Homo sapiens: one gene and its partner. The protein of the gene in region 1 interacts with the protein of each later gene in a pairwise test. Each region holds a gene or a part of one and is shown in the gene's direction. Other genes may lie near its edges.

Region 1 (3,573 bases):
TCCTCCAGGGCAGCTGTGCAGGTCGAGTTTTGGGCCTCTGCAGGAGTACCAGGATGAGGGCAGCCCGAGAGGGATTTCTTTTTGTTTTTTGTTTTTTTTTTTTTTTTGAGATGGAGTCTCACTCTATCGCCCAGGCTGGAGTGCAGTGGCATGATCTTGGCTCACTGCAACCTCCGCCTCCTGGGTTCAAGCGATTCTCCTGCGTCAGCCTCCTGAGTGGCTGGGATAACAGGCACATGCCACCATACCTGGCTAATTTTTGTATTTTTAGTAGAGACGGGGTTTCACCATATTGGTCAGGCTGGTCTCAAACTCCTGACCTTGTGATCTGCCTGCCTCAGCCTCCCAAAGTGCTGGGATTACAGGCGTGAGCCACCGCGCCTGGCCCCGAGATGGACTTCTAAGAGCCTGGTGCCTCCTCTCGCTCCTGGCACCTCTCCTCTTCCTGAATTCCTCCCTGCCGAGCTCTGCAGATCTGGATGCTGCTTCCTCACCCAGCTGTGCAGTGTGAACGTGGTACAGGACATCTTGATCTGCTCAGGATCCTGACTTTTGTCTTATGGGCAATCTTGCTTCCTGAGGCAGAAGGATCATTTGAGCCCAGGAGTTCAAGACCAGCCTGGGTAACATAGTGAGACCTCATCTCTCCAAAAAATTCAAAACATGAGGCAAGAAGATCACTTGAGCTCAAGAGGTTGAGGCTGCAACGGGCTCTGATAGCGCTACTGCACTCCCGCCTCGATGACAGAGACCCTGCCTCAAAAAAATAAATAAATAAATAAATAATTTTTAAAACCTGCAAATCTTTAACAGCCATTGAGCCTATGACACCCTATGGGCATTTCCTGTCATGGGTGCTGGTACAGGTCTGACCTTGATGACAGCCTGTCTTCCCTGGGGAAGGACCCAGTTCCACAACTGTTGCGGTCTGTGCTTCTTGCCACAAAGGTAACAGAGTAGAACTGGGGTTGTCCCTTGGCCTGCCCTTGGAAGGCTAGGAGGTTCTCTGTGTACAAGTGACCCAGGTCCCTGAAGGAAGCACTTCATGACCCTATGAAGAGGGCTTCTGCCTGGCACCCACTCCATCCCATCCTCAGTCACACTTGATTGGAGTACATTTCAGAACAAGCCTCCTGCTTATCCCCTCCTTCTGGCTGAATGGGCAGTCGGCAGTCTTCATTCAGCCAGGCCTGGTTAGAAATCCCCTTGACTGTGTGTTTCTGTATGGAATAGATGGCCTACTGCCAGCATATTGGGGTGGAGTTCATGTTCATCAATGACCTGGAGCAGTGCCAGTGGATCCGGCAGAAGTTTGAGACCCCTGGGATCATGCAGTTCACAAATGAGGAGAAACGGACCCTGCTGGCCAGGCTTGTGCGGTCCACCAGGTATGGGTCTGGCCCTGGGCCATGGGGCAGACATTCCCAGGGAAGCAGTGACCCTGTCTGTGTTGATCGGGCCTGTGTGCAGCCTGTTGGCCGAGGTGAGAGGGGGTTTGGGGTGGTACAGGCAAAGCTCCATCTGCACATGTGTGAAGAGACACCAGACAAGTAGAGTCAGCCTTCAGAGCAACCTCCGCCTCCTGAATTCAAGTGATTCTCTTGCCTCAGCCTCCTGAGTAGCAGGGATTACAGAGGCACACCACCACGGCTGGCTAATTTTTATATTTTTAGTAGAGATGAGGTTTCACCGTGTTGGCCAGGCTGGTCTCGAACTCCTGACCTCAGCTGATCTGCCCACCTCGGCCTCCCAAGGTGCTGGGATTACAGGTGTGAGCCTCCATGCCTGGCCAGAATCCCCTCTTTTTGGTCAGGAAGAGTGACATTGCCCTTCAAGGTGGCTTGGTTCCCTGTCCAGGTTTGAGGAGTTCCTACAGCGGAAGTGGTCCTCTGAGAAGCGCTTTGGTCTAGAAGGCTGCGAGGTACTGATCCCTGCCCTCAAGACCATCATTGACAAGTCTAGTGAGAATGGCGTGGACTACGTGATCATGGGCATGCCACACAGGTACAGCCAAGGGCGCGCCCAACCTGGTTTCTCACCATCCCTGTGGGCTGTGTAGGAGGCACCAGGTAAAGGCACTGAGAGAGCAGCTGTTTCCTCCTTGAGTGCCAGTTGTGAGTCTGGGCTCATCTGGTACCTGAGGGTGTATTGCTTTGCAGGGGATTCTCACATTGCCTGCCTCTGGAGGACTGCAAAGTCATGGTCACCTCCAAAGCCACATGTAGTTTCAGACTGGCATTTGGCCTTACAGTGCATCTTTATGAAAATTAAACCCAAGTTCCCTTGTTGGGGTCTAACCTGGAGGGAAGGCTGCTTCCTGACATTGAAGGGGAGGCCAAGACTGTGAAAATAGGGAAGGTGTGGGGAGGGAGAAGGGTAAGGAAGCCTCAGGCCCATGGCATTGCTGCATCTTCTATCTTTCTGCTGCCCACTGTGGCCTTGATTGCCCAGCACGGAGAGGCTCGGTTCCCACATTAGCTCCAGTTTACAGCTATCCTTGGGCTGCAAACCGAGGAGGTGCCGTGTCCTGGGGGGAGGGGGAGGGGGGGATTGTAACACCCTCATCTGCCATCTGGAAACCATGACCTCAGGCTCTGCTCACCCTACTCGCCCATACGTTCCAGAGGGCGGCTGAACGTGCTTGCAAATGTCATCAGGAAGGAGCTGGAACAGATCTTCTGTCAATTCGATTCAAAGCTGGAGGCAGCTGATGAGGTGAGGCACCTGCATAGAGACACATCCAGCATAGCCCCAACTTACACAAGACCCCTGGCTCCACTTCTTTCTTAGAATGACTTACGGGGGGTTGGTTCTTCTGTACCATTTGTGATTTGCCTTCCTTGTTGGGAGAATTTTAGTGTTGGGACAAAGGTGGCCAGTGGCCCACCTCCTGGTCAGAGGTCCAGCAGCCCCACTCTGAGTGCAGGGGTGTGTCCCCTCTGGCTGAGGGACGTTCTCCTTATGCCCTGGATGGGAATGATCCTGGGAAAAGGCCTCCATATCCTTCTGCGTTGGGTTCCTGGGAGTAGAAATCCCATATAAGGCTGGGCATGGTGGCTCACATCCGTAACCCCAACACTTTGGGAGGCTGAGGCAGGCGGATCACGTGAGGTCGAGAGTTTGAGACCAGCCTGACCAACATGGAGAAACCCCATCTCTACTAAAAATACAAAATTAGCCGGGCGTGGTGGCGCATGCCTGTAATCCCAGCTACTCGGGAGGCTGAGGCAGGAGAATCGCTTGAACCCAGAAAGTGGAGGTTGCAGTGAGCCGAGATCGCGCCATTGCACTCCAACCTGGGCAACAAGAGCGAAACTCCATCTCAAAAAAAAAAAAAAAATTCCCGTATAAAAGGGCTCTTTTGGAGACTGAGCATCTCCTTGGCCAGGGTGCAAATTCACTGTTTACCCCATCAGGGCTCCGGAGATGTGAAGTACCACCTGGGCATGTATCACCGCAGGATCAATCGTGTCACCGACAGGAACATTACCTTGTCCTTGGTGGCCAACCCTTCCCACCTTGAGGCCGCTGACCCCGTGGTGATGGGCAAGACCAAAGCCGAACAGTTTTACT
Region 2 (3,573 bases), on another chromosome or scaffold:
TAATGCAAACTGAGATTCCTATTGTCCTAAGAAAATCTGGGAAGTTAGTAACACAAACACATCTTTTGATTTATTTCAGGACCACATAAACCCATTTTGAATTATTCAACCATTGCTGAACTTCTTGAGTATGTATAATTAAGAGTTGACTATAATTGGAATGTTCTTAAGACTTTAAGTTGATTATAAAATTTTGTGCTTAAAGTTGGCAATAATCAAAACAAAACAAACAAACAAAAAAAACCCTTTATTTTAAAACACAGTCTTGCTCTGTCACCCAGGCTGGAATGCAGTGATGACATCATACTTCATTAGACCGTCAATATTCCAGGCTCAAGCAATCCTCCCACCTCAACCTCCCGAGTAGTTGGGACTACAAGCGCATGCCACCATGCTTGGCTAATTTTTTTTTAGTAGAGACAGTGTCTGTCCATGTTGCCCAGGCTGATCTCAAACTTCTGGACTCAAGTGATCCTCCTGCCTCAGCTTCCCAAAATACTGGCATTATAGGCATAAGCCACCATCCCTGGCCAAAAAATAATTCTGAAACAGCAAGGAGGAAGGCGGTTTCTTCTTGGGAAGTCTTGATTTTAGTTGAGCATGTAGAGGGATCACTTGACTTATTAACCACTTAGGATTGCACAGTAAGATAATTTAAAGGGTAGCCAGCACTGGAGTGGGCCTGGGAAGGGGATGGGCAGTTTGTGTTAGTGTGTGTGGGTCCAAGATAAAAATGTTGGGTAGCAGAGTTTTGCCTAATGCATTGTCGCTAAAAGGGATGAAGGGCATCGGGATCTACAGGAGATGGAAAAAGTAGTGACAGGATAGTAGTGGGAAAAACTAGGATCGGATCAAGGCACTGGAAGGCAGAAATATTGAGTAGAATGTTTGCTGCAATTTATGTTTCTGTATAAATACCGAGTACAAAGTTTCACTTGGGTGGTCAAGGTGCTATGGCTGTGACAACTCCTGAGAGTGGGTTTTCTGGTTAAAAAAAAAAAAAAATCTCTGAATGCACGGAGTCGTCTCAGGCCTTCTCAAATTTGCAAAGAACAGGTCCACAAGACCTACATTTCCCAAGATAATTGCAGTAGTGTGACCTGATAATTAACATTTTTTGCTTTCCTGCTGGAACATTCCTGGGGCCCAGAGACTGGGCCAAGCATTTCCAGTCCAAAGACTGGGAACTGAACCAAGCATTTCCTTTAGATTGTTCAAGTTGTGAAGGTTGATGTTATTAGCTTGGTTACTACTTGGAGTCTTAGCTCATAGTGTGTCTTTATGGCTTTCTGCCTCACTGGACCCTCTTCCCAAAAGGCTTTAGAATGTGTTCACCATCATGAGCTGACCAACAATTTCTAAATTCCTACTCAGAAACACAGCAAGGGGAATGCAGTCAAGCACAAAGGGCTTAAATGACCAGATAAGGCTGGGCTGGATGAATAAAGAGGAATATCCTATGAATGTGACTGTGTAGTTTTAGAGTATCCCGATTCAACTGTTATATTTGACTTGTGGCCTTGTAGACAGTGTGTTAATGTCAGATCTTCTTTTTCAGAACTGTTTTAATCATGGACAAACAAAGTAAGTAATTTATTTTAAATGTTTACTTTCCTCCTTATAATGTTAATCTGTTGGTAACTTGTTATTTGTCATAATGTTTTATTCAGTGTCTGAAAGTGTATAATTTGTTTTCTGTTGTTTATGCTCCAGAATACAATGTCTAGTTCAGTATTTTGACTATAGAGAAGATGTACAAAAATAGCACTATCACTAGGTTCTTCATTAAAAATACGAAAGCCTTTTGGAAAGCTAAGAAATGCTAGATTTATTGGGAAATATGTTCTGTAACATATATTTAAACCACAACAATATTCTCTTTGTGTATTTTATATGTATAAAGATTATTCAAGTCATACTAATTAACAGATAATAAGATTTGAGTTCATTGTAATAAACTCCTCAGATACACACCTCAATGTATATTTCATCACAGACACATGTTTGTATTTTAAGTAAATACCAGTCATTATGTTCTGGCTTTTTTTCTCTCAAGAAAATTCTAAGTAAGATGGATATTTATCAAGCAAGTAATAAAAGACTGTCTTATTAAGATATCAAGGTTCTGAAGAACAGAGGGAAAATTATGTTCAAAATTCCCACTACATAGGGAAAATTAAATTCAAAAATTAAATCCTGTTTTTCTGAAACGCTTTTCTTTATTCTCTCTTTCATCTTTGTTGAGGTAACAAAAAAATATTTATCTGTCACTACAGTGTCACCCTTATTAGATATATGAAATAATCTCCAGGACTAGACTCCTTGCTTTTCCCATGTGAAGTTTTATGATTTTCTTTTTACTTACAAAACTCAAAGCTTTTTAAATGTAAATTTATATAGAATTATACTGGTTTATTTGCCACAGACTTTAAGTTGATTCCACTCAATTTACAAAAATGTATCTGGTGATGGTCATAGGCAACTTTTAACTCTTCAGTTTTGTATATATAATTGTATGTATGTATGAATGTATTTGCATAAATAGAAATAAAATGTGTATATGTGTGTGAATAAATGTGTAAATATGTATATATACATACATGTAGACATAAAAAAAAGTACCTTTAAGACAATGTGATAGACTTGTACTTCTTATAAGCCATTTTAAGTTGCATTTCAAAAACGCAGTAATCAAACCATAATTAACATGCTCTTTGTTCTGCTTGAACACCTGCCCATTCACTCATTCTCCTTGTATGAATTCCCCCTGGAATGCCTGAAATCAGAATCATTGCTTTGGTACCAAAAGCCCAGAGATTGTGAGCTCATGATTTCTTGAGTCTGTCTGTTCCTGTATATGTGTGTGTGTGTGTGTTCTATGTTATAGTATTCAAACAATGTTGCTTATTAAGAGGTATCACAATGTGACATACCTGTCAAGGGTAGATCTTTACTTCAGACTTGCAAAATATTTTCTTGAAATCTATTCTGAGTCTGATGCTGTGTTTCCAACTTAATTTGGGAGTAGGGGCTGCAGGCAGGGCCTTATTAGCTAGAGAACTAGGGAGTTAGGTCAGTCACTTGATGCTGAGAAATAGAAGAGAATGGATGGGAAAGAATGATGGGGAGTTTCAGAGATTTGTGATGATTCACAAATCACAAGGTATGTTGCAATGTTTGTCCAGGGAAAAGTCCTCATTTGTTTTTTGTTGTTGTTTTGTGTTATTTATTTATTTATTTATTTATTTGAGATGGAGTCTCGCTCTGTCGCCCAGGCTGGAGTGCAGTGGCACGATCTCGGCTCACTGCAACCTCCGCCTCCCGGGTTTAAGTGATTCTCCTGCCTCAGCCTCCTGAGTTGCTGGGACTACAGGCGCGTGCCACCATGCCTGGCTAATTTTTGTATTTTTAGTAGAGATGGGGTTTCATTTTGTTGGCCAGGCTAGTCTTGAACGAGTAGGAGAGCGGTTTTTTTGCCTGATTTTACACAATCACCATGGACTGGATTCCGCTGAAGTCATCATGAAGCTATTTATGAAGGAGAAAGGCCGGGGCAGGGGGTGGGGGAAACAA

The links. The genes of interacting proteins can lie anywhere in the genome.
Region 2: the proteins of OGDH (region 1) and PLSCR1 interact in a two-hybrid assay, tested with the Homo sapiens proteins (one large-scale study listed by BioGRID and IntAct).

What each region holds. Positions count from the first base shown.
Region 1 is NC_000007.14:44,672,554-44,676,126, forward strand, and holds part of OGDH (2-oxoglutarate dehydrogenase complex component E1 isoform 1 precursor), read left to right. Parts: intron 1-1,233; coding exon 1,234-1,388; intron 1,389-1,857; coding exon 1,858-2,004; intron 2,005-2,624; coding exon 2,625-2,715; intron 2,716-3,416; coding exon 3,417-3,573. UniProt on the Homo sapiens protein: 2-oxoglutarate dehydrogenase (E1o) component of the 2-oxoglutarate dehydrogenase complex (OGDHC). Participates in the first step, rate limiting for the overall conversion of 2-oxoglutarate to succinyl-CoA and CO(2) catalyzed by the whole OGDHC.
Region 2 is NC_000003.12:146,534,551-146,538,123, reverse strand, and holds part of PLSCR1 (phospholipid scramblase 1), read left to right. Parts: intron 1-79; exon of another isoform or gene 80-128; intron 129-1,558; coding exon of another isoform or gene 1,559-1,571; coding exon 1,572-1,584; intron 1,585-3,573. UniProt on the Homo sapiens protein: Catalyzes calcium-induced ATP-independent rapid bidirectional and non-specific movement of phospholipids (lipid scrambling or lipid flip-flop) between the inner and outer leaflet of the plasma membrane resulting in collapse of the phospholipid asymmetry which leads to phosphatidylserine externalization on the cell surface.